Linked DNA regions of Homo sapiens. The protein of the gene in region 3 interacts with the protein of the main gene of each other region in a biochemical or structural test. Each region holds a gene or a part of one and is shown on either strand. Other genes may lie near its edges.

Region 1 (7,546 bases), on a different chromosome or scaffold from region 3:
GAACTTTTAAATCTAATGAAACATGTATTTAATAGTTTAAGTGATAGTTTAATAGGATATATCTAATTTGGTGTTTGTTTGTTTTTGTTTTTTGAGACAGGGTCTCATTATATTGCCCAGGCTGGAGTACAGTGGCACAATCTCAGCTCACTGCAACCTCAGCCTCCTGGGCTCAACCTCAGCTCACTGCAACCTCAGCATCCTGGGCTCAACCAATCCTCCCAGCTCAGCCTCCCAAGTAGCTAGCACTACAAGCGTGCGCTACCATACCTGGCTACTTTTTCTATTTTTAGTAGAGATGAGGTTTCGCCATGTTGCCCAGGCTGGTCTCAACTCCTGACCTGCAGTGATCCAGCCCGCCTCAGCCTCCCAAAGTGCTAGGATTGCAGGCGTGGGCCACTGTGCCTGACCAAAAAGTTTTAAATTTTATAGGTAACATTTTTGTGCAGAATTTTAAATATGAAAATAAAGTATGTTAAGAAATCTAAACATAACACATGTGAATTTAGGATTTTAAAGTGATCAGAATGGCTCTAGTAGTGTTAAGCTATCTTGGTTGTGGAACATATTTGAATATTTAAATAATTATTAAACATGCTTTTAGGCCAGGTGCAGTGGGTCACACCTGTAATCTCAGCACTTTAGGAGGCTGGGGGGGCGGCAGATCACCTGAGGTCGGGAGTTCGAGACCAGCCTGACCAACATGGTGAAACCCCGTCTCTACTAAAAATACAAAATTAGCCAGGCGTGGTGGTGCATGCCTGTAATCCCAGCTACTCAGGAGGCTGAGGCAGGAGAATCGCTTGAACCCGGGAGGCAGAGGTTGCGGTGAGCCAAGATTGTGCCATTGCACTCCAGCCTGGGCAACAAGAGCAAAACTCCATCTCAAAAAAAAAAAAAAAAAGATGCTTTTAAAACAATTTTAATTGCCCATATAGCATGGTAAATACTGCAAGGAATAAAATTCCAAGTGTTATTAGAAACCTTCAAAACAGGAAGACAGCATGAGTCCTTGAGCTATAAAGAATATAAAGCTACAAACTTCAAGAAGTACATTAACAGAGACAAGTGAACAACAGCACAGGAGGGTCACTCCCTAAAGACCTACTGTCTCCCACTGCACCAACATTCCTCTGAAAAAATAATCTCTTAATTACAAGGAATGTGTAAGGCATGTGTCAGTAAAATGTATTAGATATCTACTGTATGGTCCCAGAGATTATGCCAAGTTAAAGGAAAGTAAAAGATGAGTTTGGAACTTCTTACTGTGCCAGAAAGTAAGGAAGTGTTCAAGAAGGTGGTGGACACTAAACCTAAGGGGAATATTTGATGAGAAAGGGGATATTCGCATAGTTTCAAAGTGTGTCCCCTCAAATTACTTAATTGTAACAGGAAAAACAGTTAACTACAAAGTAAAAAAAAAAAAAAAAAAAAAGAGACAACACTTAAACTAAGTGATCAAAGCCTGGGCACATAGGGAGACTCCATCTCTACAAAAAATTTAAAAGCAGAGCATGGTGGCACATGCCTGTAATCCCAGCTATTCAGGAGGCTGATAGTGATAGGATTGCTAGAGCCCAGGCATTTGTGGCTGCAGTGAGCTATGACTGCATTCTAGTAGTCATACTAGAAAAACATAATATTTTTTTTTTTTTGAGACAGGGGACTCCTCGCTCTGTTATCCAGGCTCGTCTCGAACTTTTGGGCTCACTCAAGTGATCCTCCCGCTTCAGCCTCCCAAGCAGCTAGGACTATAGGCGTGCACCACCAATCCCAGCTATCAAATGCTGCACAATGTTATTTTATTTTATTTACTTTATTTTTGAGACAGGTTCTCACTCTGTCACCTAGGCTGGAGCACAGTGACATGACCAGGGCTCACTGCAGCCTCGACCTCCTGGGCTCAAGTGATCCTTCCACCTCAGCCCCCCAAGTAGCTGGGACTACAAACATGCACCACTAAGCCTAGTTAATTCTTTTTTTCTTTTTTTTTGAGACAGAGTCTCGCTCTGTTGCCCAGGCTGGAGTGCAGTGGCGTAATCTCGGCTCACTGCAACCTCTGCCTCCCGGGTTCAAGCGATTCTTCTGCCTCAGACTCCCGAGTAGCTGGGACTACAGGCACATGCCACCACGCCCGGCTAATTTTTGTATTTTTAGTAGAGACGGGGTTTCACCATACTGGCCAGGCTGGTCTCGAACTCCTGACCTCGTGATCCGCCCACCTCGGCCTCCCAAAGTGCTGGGATTACAGGCATAAGCCACTGCACCTGGCCAAATTTTTTTATTTTTAGTAGAGACGGGTTTTCGTCATGTTGCCCAGGCTGGTCTTGAACTCCAGGACTCAAGCAATCCACCCACTTTGGCCTCCCAAAGTGCTAGGATTACAAGTATGAGCCACCGTGCCTGGCCCACATGCTGTGCAATTTTAATTGGTGAATCTAAGGAATAGTTATACAGGAGAGTATTACACTATTCTCACAATTCAGTAAGTTTGAAATATTTTCAAAATAAAAAGTTAATAACCCTATATTGTTCCCACTATCAGAAATATCAGTAATGTTACTCTGTGTATGAAGGGAATCTATGTATATAGATACACACACACATACACACACACACACACTACTTTGAGATATCTCTATAGAGGGAAGATGGGTGGAATATAAAAGCAAAGCAAACTGCTCATAGAATAAAAAAATCAAATGAAGACAGAGAAGCATAAAAAAATAGGGTAAAACAAGATGACAGAGCCAAATATATTAATATACACTATGCTTCTGTATTAACATTCTCAAAATAGGTCAAAAATGAAAATCCAGCCATTAATGTTACCATCACCATGAAAGTATACCAGAAATTTACCAAATTTGAGGAACATTTGTCTATCTTCAAAAAGGATGTAGCATGTGACCTATGACAATTTCAGTACTCATTTTGTTTCTACCACCCTTTTTATTGGCACTTTTAAAGGCACTATAGGGGAAGTTCAACCCAAAACATTATTTCTTCTCTCCAACAAATGATATGCCATTTAAATCAGAGAATATTCAAGAAAAGGGCAGTTTTAACACCAGTGAACCAAACTGCTCAAAGGAGAATTTAAATTTTTTCTTGACTCAGGAGAAAAGTATACTCACTTCTTTTGGAGTATGATTATCAGCAATTCTCTGACCCTCAAAGAGAAACCTGAGTGAATTCATTGGAACACCCTAAAAAGGTAAAGATAATAATAATGCATACATACACACACAAATATTAGAAAACATAATGGTAACTTTGATGCACAAAAAGCAAGCATGAAAGCCTTAGAACACTACATAGAAAATAAAATTAGACAAGCTAATTCAATCATAAATACTATATACTGTACTGAGTAGCAACTATTTGCAAGGCCCTCCCTGTACCAATTCTTTACATACATAATCATAAGTGTTAAACACAACAACCCTGGAAGGTAGGTATTACCACCTTATCTTCATGTTACAGCTAGGGAACCTAAGGCTTGGAGCTAGCCAAGAATTTAAGCCCAAACCTGTTTCTAAGCCTATGCTCTTGACCACTACTCGATTCACTTTGCCCTAAATCTGTAAGCTAGAATAAAAGATCAGATCAGAAACTGGACGTGCACCCTCACTAGCTTCCAACTATACTGGCGAAATTGGTTTTAAACAGATTACATCATAAAATTTGGTAAAGCACAAATGGCTAGCTAGCTAATCTACCATAAACCTGGATGGCATAGATAGCGCAATATTACAAAATATATTAGTATACATTTTTCTAATCACTCTTCAACAAAAATAGCTGAAAGGGGAGACGGCTCACTTGAGGTCAGGAGTTTGAGACCAGCCTGGCCAACATTATCATAAAATCTGGTAAAGCGCAAATGGCTAGCTAGCTCATCTACCATAAACCTGGATGGCACAGATAGCACCATAAATATTACAAAATATATTAGTATACATTTTTCTAATCACTCTTCAACAAAAACAGCTGAAAGGGGAGAGACGGCTCACTTGAGGTCAGGAGTTTGAGACCAGCCTGGCCAACATAATGAAACTCCATCTCTACTAAAAATACAAAAATTACGGGGCAGGCGCAGTGATTCAGCCTGTAACCCCAGCACTTTGGGAGGCCGAGGCGGGTGGGTCACTAGAGGTCAGGAGTTCAAGACCAGCCTGGCCAACATGGTGAAACCCCATCTCTACCAAAAATACAAAAATTAGCCTGGCGAGGTGGCACGCGCCTGTAATCCCAGCTACTCGGGAGGCTGAGACAGGAGAATCACTTGAACCCGGGAGGTGGAGGTTGCAGTGAGCCAAGGTCGTGTCACTGCACTCCAACCTGGGCAACAGAGGAACACCCTGTCTAAAAAAAAAAATACAAATACAAATACAAAAAAAAATACAAAAATTAGCCAGGCCTGGTGGCAGGTGCCTGTAATCCCAGCTACTCGGGAGACTGAGGCATTGGGAATCACTTGAGTCCAGGAGGTGGAGGTTGCAGTGAGCTAAGACGGCACCACTGCACTCCAGCCTAGGCGACAGAGTGAGACTCTGTCTCAAAAAAAAAAAAAAAAAAAAAATCAATTCCCTGGCCTACAGATGGGGGGCGTAGAGACTATATGAATTTTCTTCAGAGTTATGAAAATTAAATGACGATGAATCTTTTTTTTTTTTTTTTTTTGAGACAGTGTCCCACTCTGCCACCCAGGCTGGAGTGCAATGGCGTGATCTCGGCTCATTGCAACCTCCGCCTCCTGGGTTCAAACGATTCTTCTGCCTCTGCCTCCCGAGTAGCTGGGATTACAGGCGTGCACCACCATGCCTAGCTAATTTTTGTATTTTTAGTAGAGACAGGGGTTTCACCATGTTGGTCAGGCTGGTCTCGAACTCCTGACCTCATGATCCGCCTGCCTCAGCCTCCCAAAGTGCTGGGATTAGAGGCGTGAGCCACTGTGCCTGGCCAATAATGTATCTTAAATACCTATGGCACAGTACACATAATTGAGATTTCAATAAATGTTTCTTTCCCCTGATGAATTTCATCTCAATTTTAACACCCAAAGTTATTACAAATGTGAAGTAGTTGAACCCCAATTAATGTGATTTTATTAAGTTAAACAATTAAAATCTACAAAAACAGAAGAGACAAAAATGCTTATTGTTTTACTTATCCTAACACCTAGTTTCTCTTTCTTATAATAAGTTTTTTTTAATGTGAGTTACAAATTTAAACTGTTAAAAGCAAACCTTCTAAAAATGAAATCTACAGGCCGGGCACGGTGGCTTATGCCTGTAATCCCAGCACTTTGGGAGGCCAAGGCGGGCGGATCACAAGGTCAGGAGTTCGAGACCAGCCTGACCAACATAGTGAAACCCCGCCACTACTAAAAATACAAAAATTAGCCGGGCGTGGTGGTGCATGCCTGTAATCCCAGCTACTCGGGAGACTGAGGCAGGAGAATCGCTTGAACCAGGGAGTCACAGGTTGCAGTGACCTGAGATCACACCACTGCATTCCAGCCTGGGCGACAGAGTGAAGACTCCATCTCAAAGAAATAAATAAATAAATGAAAATAAAATTTACAATACCTGAGTTAATATTATGTAATATAATTCAATTTTTTTTCTTTTTTTTCTTTTTTCTTTTTTTTTTTTGAGATGGAGTCTTGCTCTGTCACCCAGGCTGAAGTGCAGTGGCATGATCTCAGCTCACTGCAACCTCTGCCTCCCAGATTCAAGTGATTCTCCTGCCTCAGCCTCCCGACTAGCTGGGAATTACAGGCATGCGCCACCATGCCTGGCTAATTTTTGTACTTTTAGTAGAGACAAGGTTTTGCCATGTTGGCCAGGCTGGTCTTGAACTCCTGCCCTCAGGTGATCCGCCCGCCTCAGCCTCCCAAAGTGCTGGGATTACAGGCATGAGCCACTGCACCCAGCCTATAATTTAATTTAAGACTGATTAAACATATATTTCTTGCTTATTAAATCATAATTTCACTTAAACTATATCTTGGTTGTCTCATATTAATTCCAATTACATTTATTTTCAAAACCTATTTTATAAGGCCAGGCCTGGTGGCTCACGCCTGTAATCCCAGCACTTTGGGAGGCCGAGGTGGGCAGATCACCTGAGGTCGGGAGTTCGAGACCAGCCTGACCAACATGGAGAAACCCCATCTCTACTAAAAATACAAAATTAGCTGGGCGTGGTAGTGCATGCCTGTAATCCCAGCTACTCGGGAGGCTGAGGCAGGAGAATCACTTGAACTTGGGAGGCGGAGGTTGCAGTGAGCAGAGATCGTGCCACTGCACTCCAGCCTGGGCAGCAAGAGCAAACTCCATCTCAAAAAAAAAAAAAAAGAGAGATAATATACTAATAATACTACTACTTAAATTTAACATATGGCTAAACACTCATGATTAGAAGTACAAAAACAATCCATAGTAATCACCAAAAAATTACTTGCCTTTTTTGCTATATATACTGGTAAGCCATCAAGACAGAAACATTCATTTGAGCTCGCTTTTACAATTCTGAGTTACTTTTCAAACTAGTTCCCATCTTACGAATTCAAACTTTAAAATGGGCCACAAGACAAAAAAAGCAGTTAAGCAGGGTACAAGAAATGATAGAGTGTTTTCCTTGAGTTGCTAATGGTGAAAATAATAAAACAGGATTTTTCTTCTGACAATCTTCTATAAAAAAAAAAAAATTAACGACAAAGCATTGTACTTAATACCAAAATGGACGAACCTGTCTTTGACAGTATGATTCTTTGAGTTTCTTGAGATGTGTTGTCATTTTCACTTTGAAGTGAATCTCACTGCTATCCTAAGGAGATAAAAAAGAAAAAAATTATCCCTCTTTGTATAAATCATTTGCTTTACTTGAACCAAACTATTTAATTACACATATAGTGCAAATAGAAACATAAACCTTGTAACCTGTATTTTTCCACCACAATATTCTTTTTAGCATTCTTAACAGGTTTTCTTAAAACAGTGTAATCATCCTCAAAGTTACTGTATACCCATTACAAAAGAAACCGAGTAAAACAAAGTTAATCAGTCTTGAGTGTTAAAATTATCAGTATAAGTAAAAGTCTAAGTAAATGCATTCCTTCATTTGCCATTCTATTGTCAAAATAAAAGATGAACTATCGCATCTTTTATTTATCCCAATAGCAACTCAAAACAAAAAGTCTGTCCCCCCAAGTGAAGTGTCACTGAAGGTGGTCGCCTAGGAGAAAAGCAGTTAATTAGATAATAATTAATTGTATAAAATTCAATTTTATACAATAAGCGACTGAGAAATTTATTCCTGCCATAAAAAATCACCACATGGGGCTGAGCGCAGTGGCTCATGCCTGTAATCCCAGCAATTTGGGAGACCAAGGCAGGCGGATCACAAGGTCAGGAGTTCAAGACCAGCCTGGCCAGTATAGTGAAACCCCGTCTCTACTAAAAATACAAAAATTAGCCAGGCATGGTGGCACACACCTGTAGTCCCAGCTACTCAGGAGGCTGAGGCAGAAGAATTG
Region 2 (7,546 bases), on a different chromosome or scaffold from region 3:
GATGAGCATCTTAGGTCAGAAAAACTATCGTTCATAAATAATTGAACTGAAAGAGCTATTATTTATCTAATATTTGAAAGAGCTACGGCTGTGGACCCTGCTTCCTATAAACCTTATTACTTTTAAAAACATGCTGTATATTCAAGTAGCAATTATTAAAAATAAAAAATGAGTACAGATTGCTTCCATAAATCCCTTCAAGAGAAACATTTTCTTCAATTTTATAAAAACGGAAAACTTGATGGTTGCTTCAGTGCAGCTACTTCTAACCTAAACAGTATTTTCCAACTGTCAGGTTCTCTTCTTTCAGAGAAACAAGACATAAATTAAGAGTGCTAGCACAGTAAGTAGCAGTGGCTAATGAAATAAAATGGCTTGAGATGCCTATGTATACACCTGATAATCCAGCAAAGAACAGCTATACCCCTGTAAAAGTTGAGAATCAGCACAGATCTTGTGTCAGTCACTATAATGATGCTACTGATTATTCGAAGTTTAGACTAACATGCTATATGTACTGCATTATCCTACAGTGTGAAATGTCTTTCATCTTAAATCATTTATCAATCAAATCTGGTATTTTATTCTTGGATGAAGTAAAACAGCTGTAAAGCTTTATTATTGTCAACATTTCCATTTAATGAATGGGACAACCAGTCCCAAAATCTTCCTTTTACTATCTCTTATTCTCTCTCTTCTTTTGCAGAGATGGGGTCTCCTATGTTGCCCAGGCCGGTCTCGAACTCGGGCTCAAGCAATCCTCCACTTCAGCCTTCCAAAGTGTTAGAATAACAGGCATGAGCCACAGTGCCCGGGCACTCTCTCTTTTTTAAAAGACAACACCCAAGCTAAAAGGATAAAATATCAATAGGTTTATCCCCAAATTTCTAGCTCTGATATTTTAAGGTTTTTTCTCATTTCATCATTTAGATTTGTCCATCCACACTCCCCTCAACCAAAGCTAACTGCCAAAAGCCATAGTAACATAAGAGCAAAGAGAGCAAAACAAAATCAAAACAGGAGAAAGCACAGTTGATTGTTGTTTTAAAACTTTAGTCCATAGGTAATTCTGCTGTATTTTTCCTGTCTCACTGTTATCAACTGTTTCAAACCTGATCAATGAAATTACCTTTTGATACAGTCAGAGCTGGTGACCATTGTGACCTCAGAATATCGAGACAAATACTTCCATTACTGTTTATGTTTGGATGGTAAATTTTTGTTGTGAAAGCAATCTAAACATAAAACAAAACAACAAAATATGACAATCACCTTTGAATCAACTATGAATAAAACAGAACCAATTTGCTCTAGGGTAAAATATCCTCAACTTTACATAACTTTAGAGGAGAAAAGTCATCAACACAAATCAAATAATTATCTACTTTGTGCTACACACAGTTCTAGCTAGTGAGAATGTGAACACAAACAAGTCAGCTTCCTTCTTTTGCCCTCAAAGGAACTGAAGAGTATTTTGGACAGTGTAATAAATAAGTCTCTAGTAGCCGGTATGACTGGTTGAGCAGCATCTAAAGTAATTAACCATGGCTTCCATCATATGTAGAAGTAATCCTTTTCTTAATTTGATTATTGGTGATACCTGGAAGTAACATTTGGATCTAAAACCAGGGTGCTGACGCTGTTTCAGGGCAAAGTTGAGGCGTCTCAGCTAAGAAATCCATTAAGAATCCTAATTTTCCACAAGAGTTGTCATACCATTTCATAAATACAATGTTAATCTGTTTTTAACTATTTAAAATAATTATATCCTGAGTGACAAAATCTGCCCACTTTTCCCCTCCCTGATATCCCCATCATTTGTTTCCTCTTTAGAGCAAATCTAAATCTAACATGTGTTTCTCTCTCCTACCATACTAAATTAAGGGACTGCTTCATATTTACTTTCGGATTCCCCAGTGTAGAAGAACACAGTAGGTACTCGGTGAATGTTTATTGAATACTTAAAAAAAAAAAACAGAGAAAGAATGATCAACTTTGTAAGGATAATCCCATGAATAGAAAAGTCTGACTCTTAATCATAAAAACGTCCCAAACTACACATATCCAATAAGAAGGAAAAGAAAAGCAAGGAATTTAATTTATAGCATGACACGTACTGACTTTTGTTTTATAGACTTAATACAGTATTTCAATAAGAAATCAGATTTTAGATTCAGTAGTTTTTACAAAACAGTTTGAAAATGCTAACCTCCCCACAGTCTTTGACATATCAAATGAGCTCTAGATAATCAAATGAGCTCTAGATAAAGAATAAAATCTCTTACATGGGAGTCACATCAATCATAAAAATAAAAATACCTTTGGTGGTTTAAAAGGATAATCTGTCGGAAAATGTACAGTGAGAAAGAAGACTCCACCTTGATATGCGCTATCAGGCTGAAATTACAAAAGATTTGCATCAGCATTTGATTACTATATTTATTTATAACAACAAAATTATTTCCCCCAAATATTATCAGTTTGAAAAAAATGCCATCATGTTTAAAATAATTTCATTAAATATTACCAATATGAAAAAAATGCAACCATTTTGTCATAAGTTCAAATCATTTACTTTGAGAACAGGTTTCTCTGCAGGTACGAAGGAGGATTTTCCAACAACTATGCCGACATCATAAAATTTAAAACAAAACAAAAACAGGACACACACAGTGCTGTGACTTGTCCAAACAAATCTGGTTATGAGTACAAATTGTTAAAGATCAGTATACACACGACTGCTGTGGGAAAAGATCATTTTCTGCAGCCGTAATCAGTATTTTTTTTGAAAAAGGGTTGAGGATAGTAAAACTTAAGTTCTGATGTTCACTTGATGACCAAGAATGGAGATGAACTGAAGAGGCTGTCGTGAAAAGAAAATGCTAAGGACCCTGCTACACAATTTATGTGCCAAATCTTCGTTTAGTAATTATTTATAAAATAATGTAGAGAACCCAAAAAAATCCAAAACAAAATTATATATTCATGCTACTATCAAATTGGGAATCAACTTTACTAGAGAAATTTAAATTTGACCATGTTTCTTTATAGCCATTAGAAAATATAACATTACAAGCAAAAAAATTTTAAAAAAAGAAAATGCTAGCAAACTATACCTACAATTCTATTTTAATTCTTTCATATTTAATTAAATATATCATGTTATATTAGCATTCTGGTAATAACACCAAGACTCATTACTTTCTCGTTAAGTTTCCACATATATGCTAGAGGATTTTCCTGTATAATAATTCTTACTATATATATTGTTTAAACAATTCTAGTTTATCAAAAATTGTAAGAAATATAGAAAATGAAGATAAATTACAATGACAGATATGGTCCAGAGTACTGTAAATATTTACATTACTAAAGTAAGGGAGTTATGAATAACATGATTATAACCATTTGTTACATGTGATTCACCTAAAAAATATTTGTGAAAGGCCATAATTCAAAAGGTAAGGGTGGGCCTTTAAATGAGAGTATTTTGAAGGTTCTTAGTAACTAATTAAAAACAAACAGAAATAAATGGATTCTTATTGAAAGTTGTTATATAAATACATTGTATTTTGCCTTTTTAGAAAAACAAACTTAATAAAACAATAATTTGAGACAACTGCCCAGAGTACTGCTTTGAAATTCAGTAGTTTTGGTGTTTTTTAAAGTTAAACACAAGGTCGTATGATTAAAAACTCTGTAACTCACTAGATAAAGCTCTTTCAGGGCAGGGAGAAGAGAATGGTGTTCATGGAAACATGTTACTTATGTACTCTCACCCAGAAAGTAGATTTGAGCTGTCAGTGCTCATTCTTATGCAATCAGATTTTTTGCTCATAGAAAGAAAAAGCCTGTTTCAAGTCTTGTAACTGCCTCTAAAGTATTGAAAGAAATAATTTTAACAAAAGTAATAAGTATTGAGAGTAGCCAATTATCAAACAGCAGATAATTTTGTGTTTAGGACAATGCAACAAAATTAAAAGCAGCAAATTTATAAGGAGGTAAAGACAGACCCATTGTAATATTTTATTGATTCTCTTTCACAAAAAAGAACAGTGATGAAACTTATGGCAAACTGACACTTGTTACTTGTAGGAATTCAATTATTGGCTTCATTAGACTAATTTCTAACCTACCAAAACTGTGGATGTGAGAATGATTATGGTTAATTACAACTAACTCTCTGTGACTTAAAAAAAAAAAAAAAAAAGATAAACACACAGCCTGGTTGCGAGCTGTGGCACTCCATTATGTGTAATGATCTAGGATTCAGCAAAGGAAAACATAATAGTGATCCCAGGAAATATTTGCCACCAATGCTTTGGAAAATCATTGTAAATCCTTAATAATATTTTGCTTCCTAGGTGATTCAAAGTACAAGAATATTCAACCTTCATCACAAACATCTGATCAAAGGTGAAATGGCAAGAATGAAGTATGGCTGAGGGGGTTAATTTCATAGATATGAATCATACTTACAGGCCCCATAATAGTGGCTTGCCAGTGGAACACTGAAACAAACAAAGGAGTTTTGGAGTCATTAACAAATGTTCAAACCTATATTTTTAAAGGTAGCATAATCCCAGAAATAGAGCAAGGCTTACAGTCATCTCCCACAGGTCCAGCTGAACAGTGAGCAGGTGGATCGCGCTGTAGATCACTCAATTCCTGAAGGAAATCAAAAATATGTAAGGTTAATTCCTTCTTTTCCCAATGAAACAAGGGTAATGATCCATTAAGATGCAAACTATTAGCTTTAAAAACATTTAAAGCAGTTCTATTCAAAATATAAAAACATAAATTGTACTCTGTCATTGACTGGTAGAAAGAATAAGGTACTCAATTCCTCCATGAGACAGCTTCAGACCTTGAAAAGATTAAATGGAAAAAAAATACTGTTTTTCTTTAACATCCCTAAGAGAAAAACTATTTAATGAGTACCTACTGTATGTAAGATAATTTATGTAAATGCTAGGTTGATAATATATCAGAAAACAGGTACTATTTTAACAGGTTACAATCTATTGAGGGAGCATGAAGGCTCAGAAAGAATAATACTTCAGGATAACTTTTTTTTTTTTTTTGAGACAGGATCTCACTTTGTCGCCCAGGATGGAGTGCAGTGGCACGAAAGCTCACTGCAGCCTCAACCTCCTGGGCCTAAGCGATCCTCCCACCTCAGGCCCCCACTCCTACCCCGAGTAGCTGGCACTACAGGCATGTGCCAGCACACCCGGCTAATTTTATTTGTAGAGATGGGGTCTCGCCATGTTGAACAGGTTGTTCTCCAACTCCTGTGCTCAAGTGATCCACCTGCCTCGGCCTCCCAAAGTATTGAATTACAGGCATGAGCCACTGCACCCAGCTCATTTAAGGACAACTTGAAATGGGAAATAAACGAGCAGCAGTCAGGCCATGTTTTGAAACTTAGAACATTGATTCATACCCTGTTTCCTGCCCTCAAGGCAGCAAAGATCACAGAAAGGACACAGCTTTAGAGTTCACCCCGCCCCTGGGTTGTAATTCCAGTTCTTTCCATTTTTCTTCTTTTCTCTTTTTTGGATTTTTTTTTTTCCTCTAACAGAGAGAATTCCAGTTCTAATAGATCTCACTCTTTGGCCTTGTGGAAGTTACTTCACTTCTTTAGCCACAGTTTGGGAGAAACTGATCATCCCAAAGAAGAAAGGCATACATTCAATATAAAGGACTATAACTGAAGAACTTAATTTAGTTTGGAAGATCAATAATCATCTCTGAGGAAGTGACATTTAAGCTGAAATCTAAAGGATGAGTAGGAGTTACTTTTGGAGGAAAAGAGTGATACTGGGAGGCAGAGTGGCAGAGGATGAGGCTGGAAATGTGGGCAGAAGCCAGGCAGGAAACAGACAACCATACAGACCACATTAATGATGTGGTGTTTTATACCAAATGCATTAGGTAGGGGGTGAGGGAGGTCTTAAGAAGTGGCATGTTCTGATTTAATGGATGGTTGTGACTGGATTAGACATGGGAAAGAGGAGAAGCTACAATATTAGTTGCTGCATAGGCAAGAAAAATGGGGGCTTAGATTGGAGAAGTGGCAACAAGATAGAAGTGGTAGATGTGAGATACTCTGAAGGGCCTATCTATCACAGGAGTTGATGAATTACATGTGCAGAGGAAGGAGAGAAGTCATAGATATGTATGATGAAGATTAGGGACAGCTAACATTTATTCAATGTCTTAGTCATTCTAACAATCCTCAGAGATAGGTGTTATTATGTTCCCCATTTTACAAGTGAATAGTTAAGGTGACATACTTCACTGCATGCTTGAGTAACTACTATAGGGCGGAACTGGGATTCAAACCCAGGTGGGCGATCATCTCATGTTTTAGTTCCACAAATGTACGAATGTGGATGCCATTCACTGAGATAGAGAACAATAGAAGACAAACTGATTTGGAGAGTAGATATGTTGAATCTGTAATCCTTGTGATATGAAGAAACAATGTGGTTCAACATACAGGGGTGGACCTTAAAAAAGGATAGAAATTGGAAAATCATTGCATATATCTGATATTTAAAACCATGAGAATGATGTAAACATTTTTGTGGGAACACACAAAAATAAATATGCACTTAATCAAATCTAAGATGTCATCAACTGTACAGCACATCCTTATTTTAAGTACCAATAATTAAGAAAAAATGCTGCCAATTTATTTTAAAACACCATCAATTGTAAAATGCATCCACACTTTAGAAAAGTTAAAATGTGAAAGATGTCCACCTTAGAATCACTGCAATAAGGTAATTATGGCAATGAGTTCAGTGCTCTAATAGAGACAAACAAGAAGGAGGGTGTGACAGGGAAAGGCCTTCCTAAGAAAGTGATAAATGAGCTGGGTGACTGAGCCAGGTACAAACTCAGGTCTCCTTCTAAGCTCAATGTTATTTTCCAGTATACCTTGGTATTTTCATTTTTGTTTTGCTTTTTTTTTTTTTTTTTTTAAATAGCTGGTGCGGTTTCTCTTCCTAGTAAGAATTAACTAACAGGGTTAGCTGCTTCTTTGGTCCATGTTACAGTTAAGCAATAACGGACCAAGCAGGCTGATTCATGCCTGTAATTCCAATTACTTGGGAGGCTGAGGCAGGAGGGTCGCCTGAACCCAGGAGTTCGAGGCTGCAGTAAACTATGATTGGGCCTCTGCACTCCAGCCTGGGTGACAGAGCAAGACCGCATTTAAAAAAAAAAAGAAAAAGAAAAAGCAATAAGGAAACAGATTTCAGACTTTGACTTAACTATGCTGGGTAAAAGCAGCAAGGCTTTGAAGTTCAAGTCTGGGTGCCACCACTCACTTCCCACATGATCTTGGGAAAAATCTTTTTTTCTCTCTCCAAAGCTCAGTTTTCAAGTGGCACTACCTCCATCCACAGTTTCTATGACAACCAAGTGAAATGATACATGTCAAGTGTACAGCACAGTCTCTGGCACATAGTAAGCATTCAAATAAAGGGAACTGACAGCCTTCCAATTCTCTAGCAGCAGAATACAATTATTAAAA
Region 3 (8,238 bases):
CTTTTTTTTTTTTTTTTTTAAGAGACTGGCAGTGGAGGGGGTGGTCTCACTATGCTGCCCCGGCTGGTCTCTAACTCCTGAGCTCAAGCGATCCACCAGCTTTGGCCTCCCGAAGTGCTGCGAGTACAGGCATGAGCCACTGTGCTCAGCCTCAAGATGCATTTCTTAAGTAAGATTTGAGAGTTGAAATTACTCCTTGATCCATGGGCTGCAGAACAGATGTTAACATTAATCTTACTCATCTCCATGAGACCTCTTTGGTGACTAAGCACATTCTCAATGAGCAGTAATATTTTGAAAGAAATCTTTTTTTCTGAGCTGTAGATCTCAATAGTGGGCTTAAAATATTCAGTAAAACATACTGTAAACAGATATGCTACTATACAGGCTTTCCTGTTTCAATGATCAGCACACAGTAGATTTTTGCATACTTCTTAAGGGCCCTAGGATTTTCAGAATGGTAAATGAGCACTAGTTACAACTTAAGTCACTGGCCACACTAGCCCCTAACAAGAGAATCAGACTGTCCTTTGAAGCCAGGCATTGACCTTTCTCTAGCTATGAAAGTCCTAGATAGTATTTTTTTTTCCATATAAGGCTGTTTCATTTACATTGAAAGTCTGTTGTTTAGTGTGGCCACCTTCATCAATTATTTTAGCTATATGTTCTGCATAACTTGCTGCAGCTTCTTCATCAACACTTACTGCCTCACCTTACACTTTTACATTACAGAGGTGGCTTCTTCCCTTAAACCTCATGAACTAACCTCTGCCAGTTTCAAACTTTTCTTCTGCAGCTTCCTCACTCTTCACAGAATTGAAGAGAGTTAGTACCTTGCTCCGGATTAGGCTTTCGCTTAAGGGAATGTCATGGATGGTTTGATCTTCTATCCAGACCACTAAAACTTTCTCCCTATCAGCAATAAGGCTGTTTGGCTTATCATTCATGTATTCATTGGAGTAGCATTTTAATTTCAAGAACTCTTCCTCTGCATTCACAACTTGGCTAACTGTCATTCAGCACAAGAGGCCTAGCTTTTGGCCTATCTCAACTTTTGATACGCCTTTCTCACTAAGGATAAACATTTCTTAACTTCACTTAAAGTAAGAGAGATTCAACTGACTGCTCCTTTTGCCTGGACACTGTAGGGTCACTGACTGGCCTAATTTCAATATTGTGTCTCAAGGAATTGAGAGGCCTGAGGAGAGAGACTGGGAACTGCCAGTCAGTGGAGCTGTTAGTACACACCCAACTTTTACCAATTAAGTTCACTGTCTTATATGAGTGCTATTCATGGTAACCCAAAACATTGATCACAGGTCACTATAACAGATGTAACAATGAAAAGGTTTGGGGCTGGGCATGGTGGCTCATGCCTGTAATCCCAGCACTTTGGGAGGCCGAGGCAGGCGGATCACTTGAGGTCAGGCGTTCGAGACCAGCCTGGCCAATATGGTGAAACCCCGTCTCCACTAAAAATACAAAAATTAACTGGGTGTGGTAGTACATGCCTGTAATCCCAGCTACTCCGGAGGCTGAGGCAGGAGAATCACTTGAGCCCAGATGGCAGAGGTTACAGTGAGACCGAGAACACGCCAGTGCACTGCATCCTGGGTGACAGAGTGAGATTCCACCTCAAAAAAAAAAAAAAAAAAAAAGTGTGAAATATTGTGAATTACCCAAACGTGACACAAGAGACACAAAGTGAGCACATGCTGTTGGAAAAATGGCTGGCATTTACAGACTTGCTCGATGAATCCTTGCTATAAACCTTCACCTTGCAAAAAAAAAAAGGCAGTATTTGCAAAACACAATAAAATGAGTTATCTCTTATTCCCTCCATCCTCACCCAGCTACAGGAGGACCACGACTGTTTACTGCTGTATTCCAAGCAGAAAGGTTGGCATACAGGAGACCTCAAAAATACGCTACTTTGATCTTGAGGAGAGTGAAAAATCTTACTCATTTTATGTACAAAGCACAGATGTGCATACATTATATAAAAAGAAATAGTTTACGTATGGCATTAAGATTTCATGAAGATTAGAAAAACAATGTTTACAAAAGGTCCTTACAAAGGTAGTAATTCAAGAAAAGATCAATAAACGATGTGTTAAAGTAAGATTTTTGGAAGCTCAAATTCAGGCAATACAAAAGCCAGCAATATATCTTGCTACTCGAATGCCTCTATTTCACCTCAAACTCACAGATAAAACTGAACCCAATATGTCCTTGTCCATTAAAAAGCAAATCACCAAGAAAGTAACAAAAGATTCCCTTCAATGTCTCTTTTATTGACAGTGGTCCCAAAACTCCTGGTCAATGAATTCAAAACCCAAATCTTGCAGGTAGGACTTAACCTCATCTGCTGCCAAATAGCTGGCTATGTGACCTTGGGCAGACCACTTCACTTTTCTGGACCTCAGTCTCCCCAGTCAGTTGGACAGTCTAAGCCAGGCTCCAGAGCTGAGACCCTACGTCTGGCTCAAGAACTTGGTGCAGAAACAGAACGAAGATTATTAAGTTTGTGAACGTCTATGGGAACTGACAAGTGAAAGACAAAAGCTGAAATCCCTACCAAAACGGCTTGCCCAAGCTCTATCCTTTTCCCTCTTCCCTCGATGGATCAAAGGCGGAAAAGCGGTGTTTACTAGCAACTCTGTTTCGGGTCGTGAGAATCTTCATACACCTGTCTATAGGCGCGCCAGAGCGGTGAAGGGCCCGAGCGGTGCAGGGCTGGGCCGCAAGCCTCACAGTCGCACGTTCCACCAACCACCAGCCGGGGCCCGGAAGCGCGCCCGGAAATCGAGGCCCTACTAAGTTTTAGACTGCGACCTCGGCGCCCCCACGGTCAGGCCCGCACCCGTACTCAGATCCTCCCGACCTACAAAAGGCCCCGCCACGCGGCCCACGCACCCCGGCAAACTCGCAGGCCCCACGATGGCGGGGCGGCGGCGCGAACACACAAAGGAGGCGTCGTCAGCGGGGAACAAAAACCCTGCCCGGGTCTTCCCCCTAACAGCACATCCTGCCCGACTTTCCAAGTGACCTTGGGGGCGTTCCTGCCCCTCCCAGAGTCTCAGTTTCCCTTCCTAGGCTAGGAACTAAGCCCCATGGCCGCGGCCCCCCAGGGTGAGCCGAGACCCAGACGCAGACCTCCTAACTTCTGTTGCCCGCGCCAAGCCGGGCTCGGTGCGCCCGCGCGGACGGCAGTGCGAGCGACCAGAGCTGGCTCGAGGTCCCGGGCTGCAAAGCCTCGGCTGGGTCAAGCCGCGCAGCGCGGCTCCCCCAAGAGGCGCGGGCCGAGGCCTCTGTAGGCCGCGAAGCTGCCTAAACCTCGCATCTGCAAGGCCCTGACTTACCGCTGCTTTCCCGCAAAGCTCGGCCTAACCTGGAGCTAGTTAGGTCCGCAGGCGCCACCGCCGGCGCACTCCGGAGAAGAAGCTCCTTCTTCAGCCGCCCAGGAGAGCTCCTCGAGAAAGATGCCGCCGCCTCAACAGCAACCCACTTCCGCTTCGGAGGCCTCGGCTCCGCCCCCCATCATGTCCCCATTGGCCGCCCGCCTACTCTACTTCCGCGGTCGGCCGGGTAAGGACAAATTTTTTAATCCTATTGGATAAGAAAACCATCTGTTACCACTTTAAAACGCGCCTCTTTCCGCCCCCGCCCACAATCGAGCGCACTAACTCGCACCTTCCGGCAAGAGACGGCGCGGGCGCGCCCCGCCCGCAAGGTTTTTCGGGAGTCACGGTCTGAGGGCGACCCGGGCGACCCGGTCGCCCGTGCCCGGCTGCCACTGACCGCTCCAACGCCGCCAGGGACGACCCGCCAGCTGCCTCCGGAGCCGAGCAGGCCCCGAACCTTCCCATTCCTAGATTTCCAGCCGCACAACAGCCGCGGTGCCCCTGGCTCGACGCAGCTGGCCGGAGGCGCGGAGCTGGTCGTTCGTCCCGCCCGCCGTTCCGCGCCCCTCTCCCGGCTCTTGTTTCCTCGCCTCTTAACGAGGCCTTTGTGAGGAAGGTTGCTGGGCCTTGGGACTCTGACGATCGGCTGGAAACCAGGCCTGGCCCTGTTTCAGCATCCCCGCGTGCCAAGCCCTGGGCCGGCGTGCGGGTCCCTGCCCCTGCGAGGAAGCTGGGACTTTTGCAGGCCTGGGTGGAGACGTGTACATAACAGAGGAAGAGTGTGGAGGATTGGAGGACTCAGGGCAGCACGGCAGAGGTGCATGCAGGTCCCCGGTCGGACTGGAGAATGGGCGGTGGGTTTCTTGAGCTCCAGTCCCTGAGCTCGACTTTGACGTGGGTTTAGCAACCAGGAAAAAAGCCCACCTTGTCCCTGCTGCCTGAGAATACCCAGACCTTAGTCCATGGCCAGCATCTCTGGTCCCTCGGCACCCTCAGGCAACGTGAAGGTCACCCCAAATGCCTTGGGTTACATTGTTTCCTTACAGTGAGTTTGTTTGTTTTAGTGGCGCGATCTCGGCTCACTGCAAGCTCTAACCTCCTGGGTTCACGTGATTCTCCTGCCTCAGCCTCCCGAATAGCTGGGATTACAGGCGCCTGCCACCACGCCCGGCTAATTTTCTTTGTATTTTTAGTAGAGATGGAGTTCCATCATGTTGGCCAGGCTGGTCTCGAGCTCCTGACCTCAGGTGATCCACCCTCCTTGGCCTCCAAAAGTGCTGGGATTACTGGTGTGAGCCACCTCGCCCGGCCACCTTACAGTGAGTTTCTAACCTCGAAAATGGAGTCAAATAACGGAATGACAAGGCAGATAGAAACCAGAGCATTAACGTTTTTGTGTTGCATTTACAAACAATATGTGTTTGCTATTTTTCGTAATTGTAAGGAAATCTGGCATGGTAGAGTATCTGATAGATAAATGTAATTCTCATGTAAAATATCTAAGTATTTGTGTTTTTTGTTTGTTTGTTTGTTTGTTTTGAGACGGAGTCTCGCTCTGTCGCCCAGGCTGGAGTGCAGTGGCGCGATCTCGGCTCACTGCAAGCTCCGCATCCCGGGTTCACGCCATTCTCCTGCCTCAGCCTCCCAAGTAGCTGGGACTACAGGCGCCCGCCACCACGCCTGGCTAATTTTTTTTTTTTTGTATTTTTTAGTAGAGACGGGGTTTCACCGTGTTAGCCAGGATGGTCTTGATCTCCTGACCTCGTGATCCACCCGCCTCGGCCTCCCAAAGTGCTGGGATTACAGGCGTGGGCCACCGCACCCAGTCTTTTTTTTTTTTTTTTTTTTTGAGACGAGGTGTCACTCTGTCAGCCAGGCTGGAGTGCAGTGGCACAATCATGACTCACTCACTGCAGCCTCGACCTCCCCAGGTTTAGATGATCAACCCACCTTGGCCTCCTGAGTAGCTGGGACCACAGGTGTGTGCCACCATGCCTGGCTAATTTTTTTGTATTTTTTTTTTGTAGACACTGGCTTTCGCCATGTTGCCCAGTCTTGTCTTGAAGCCCCGGGCTCAAGTTATCTGCTCACCTCGACCTCCCAAAGTGTTGAGATTACAGGCATGAGCCATCACACCCTGCCCTAAGTATTTGATTTTTGATAGCGACTGTAAGTTGAAAGGTATAACATTTTCCGAAGTTTGTGATTATAATTGGAGCAAAGAGAACTTAAAAGTTTAAAAGAAATGAAGACATTTAATATATCTATGAGAATTATTTAAATATTAATACTTGATAAGGCAGACAACTGAAATGCTAAAAAATAAAATTAGATTCTACGTGTATAAATGCAGTTGAAAATGTTTAAGAGAATTTCAGTTCATAAATGGGGCCGTACATGATTAATCAAAATGGTGGTTAAAAATGATCAGATTTAGGGCGGGCATGGTGGCTCTCACCTGTAATCTTAACACTTTCGGAGGCTGAGGTGGGAGGATTGCTTGAGCTGAGGAGTTTATAGATGAGCCTGGGTAACGTGGTAAAACCCCCTCTCCACACACACACACACAAATAATAATTAGCCGGGTGTGGTGGCATGTCCCTGTGGTCCCAGCTACTCAGGAGGCTGAGGCAGCAGGATTACTTGAGCCCAGGAGGTCATGGCTGCAGTAAGCTGTGATTGCACGTCAGCTTGATTGACAGAATGAGACCCTCTCTCTCTCAAAAAAAAAAAATCAGATTTAGAAAAAGTAATATTAGTAATTTGTATTTTACAGCCTAAGGAAAAGTTAGGGTTTTCTGTTTGTAACTGTAATATATTGAAGATGTGATGTTGAAAAAGTCTCTATAAATACCAGTTTCATGCTCAAAGACTGCCTTCAGCCAGGGCAACATAGTGAGACCTCATCTCTACTAAAAATAAAAAATTAGCTGGGTATGGTGGTAAGTGCATGCAGTCCCAGCTAGTAGGGAGGATGAGGCAAGAGGATCACTTGAGCCCGGGAGTTTAAGGCTGTATGAGCTATCATCACGTCACTGCACTCCAGCCTGGGTGACAAAGCGAGACCCTGCCTCAAAAACAAAAACAAAAGCTGCTTTCAAGTCTTCTCCAAGCCTCACTTGCACTGAACTTGTTCCTTCACAAATAGCGCTTCCCTTGGGCCCTGAACGCCTGCAGCTTAGAGAAAAGACCGGCACCTTGGTGCTCCCATAGTCCCACAAGTCGAAACCAGCTGAATGCAGGTTCCTGGGCCTCACACCAGCTACTAAATCTGTTTCTTCACTATTTCCAAAGAAAGCCCCTGCCCAAGTGGGTCTCAGATGCTATCAACAAGGATCTTCTGACTAGCCTGTACTCAGGCAAAATGTCCACTCCCCAGGCAGTCCAGCCAGGAAAGGTTCAGAGAGGGATTGTCAGCACTAGCTGGGCCATATCTCACTCTGGCTGGCCCCCTTTGGGGGAGTAGCTTGATTCTCTGTAAAGAGCCTATGCAGGGAGGGAAGGCAGGGGCCCCTAGTGTGAAGGCCCTGGGCTCTTAAGGGTGTGCCCCTTAGCTGCCTGTGCAGGGAGGGGAGGCAGGGGCCCCCAGTGTGAAGGCCCTGGGCTCTTAAGGGTGTGCCCCTTAGCTGCCTGTGCAGGGAGGGGAGGCAGGGGCCCCCAGTGTGAAGGCCCTGGGCTCTTAAGGGTGTGCCCCTTAGCTGTTGCTCTGGAACAAACCACCCCAAAGCTTGATACTTTGAATGACAGACATTTATTGTTGCTCATGAATCTATAAGACAGCAGGGTTGGGGGAGGTTCTTGTCCGGCTGCGCTCTCATTTTGTGCTCTGCTAGTCTAGGATGGCCTCTGAGATGGTGTCCTCCACATGGTGTCTGATCCCAGCAGGCCACCCTAGTCATGCTCACATGGGGCCTGGCGAAGGTTCCAAGAGAACAAGTGGGAGCTCCAAGGCCACCTGAGGCCCAGACTCAGAACTGGCACGTGGTCACTTCTGTTGCACCCTATTAGCCAAAGAAAGTCACTAGGCCAGACCAGATGCAAGGGCTGGGGGAATAGACTCCACCTCTCGATGGGAGGTGTAAAGTCACAAGGCAAGGGGCAGGGATACACAGACATTTTGCCATCACTCTATCACACAATGCCTACTCCCAGGCCACAACTTTAGGGAATGGTCCGAGGCCTGCTCCCACCTAGGTTTGTATGAGGAGAGGCCCCACGTGCTCTCAAGCTAGCTCTAAGCGGCTGCTCAGTCCAGGAGGGGGCAGGGGAAGACCTTGTTACCTGCCAACCAACAGTGTTGCCAATAGTACCCTCAATTTGTTAGCTGCCACATCTCCCCTCTGCTCCAGAGGCCAACCTTCTAGGTGAAGGGTAATTCCCCTGCCTTGCCACAGTGCTTGCTTCAGGCACCCATGCAGACCTTCCCTCACTGCAGGAACTGGCTCAGCCCAAGTATGTTCAATTCAGGCCAATGAGACTGGGGCAACTGTTCTTTGTTCCTCAGGCTGGAACTGCTACCAGAGTGGAGACTGAGCTCCTGGATCGGGTACATCCTGAAGTCTGCTGCCTTTGGATTGGCATTATGAGAGCTAATAAATCCCCCTTTGAAACCCCCAGAGCTCAGAGGGGCTTTCTAGGCCAGGCATCATCAATGTATTCCATCAATATCAAATTAAATGGGTTTGGATCACACAACACGGGATATGAGCAATGTTTATTTCTTTTTTTTTGAGATGGAGTTTGACTCTTGTCACCAGGCTGGAGTGGTGCGATCTCAGCTCACTGCAACCTCCGTCTCCTGGGTTCAAGCGACTCCATTCTCTTGCCTCAGCTT

What was found. Proteins that work in one complex are often made in the same cells at the same time.
Region 1: the proteins of RNF4 (region 3) and SUMO1 form a complex in vitro, tested with the Homo sapiens proteins (5 studies listed by BioGRID, with this or other methods).
Region 2: the proteins of RNF4 (region 3) and UBE2D1 form a complex in vitro, tested with the Homo sapiens proteins (12 studies listed by BioGRID).

The regions. Positions count from the first base shown.
Region 1 is NC_000002.12:202,207,598-202,215,143, forward strand, and holds part of SUMO1 (small ubiquitin-related modifier 1 isoform a precursor), read right to left. Parts: intron 6,838-7,546; coding exon 6,760-6,837; intron 3,210-6,759; coding exon 3,138-3,209; intron 406-3,137; coding exon of another isoform or gene 271-405; intron 1-270. UniProt on the Homo sapiens protein: Ubiquitin-like protein that can be covalently attached to proteins as a monomer or a lysine-linked polymer.
Region 2 is NC_000010.11:58,358,460-58,366,005, reverse strand, and holds part of UBE2D1 (ubiquitin-conjugating enzyme E2 D1), read right to left. Parts: intron 4,669-7,546; coding exon 4,605-4,668; intron 4,512-4,604; coding exon 4,480-4,511; intron 2,398-4,479; coding exon 2,320-2,397; intron 1,236-2,319; coding exon 1,130-1,235; intron 1-1,129.
Region 3 is NC_000004.12:2,464,383-2,472,620, reverse strand, and holds the start of RNF4 (E3 ubiquitin-protein ligase RNF4), read right to left. Parts: upstream 3,516-8,238; 5' UTR 3,363-3,515; intron 3,169-3,362; exon of another isoform or gene 2,579-3,168; intron 1,635-2,578; exon of another isoform or gene 1,512-1,634; intron 1-1,511. UniProt on the Homo sapiens protein: E3 ubiquitin-protein ligase which binds polysumoylated chains covalently attached to proteins and mediates 'Lys-6'-, 'Lys-11'-, 'Lys-48'- and 'Lys-63'-linked polyubiquitination of those substrates and their subsequent targeting to the proteasome for degradation.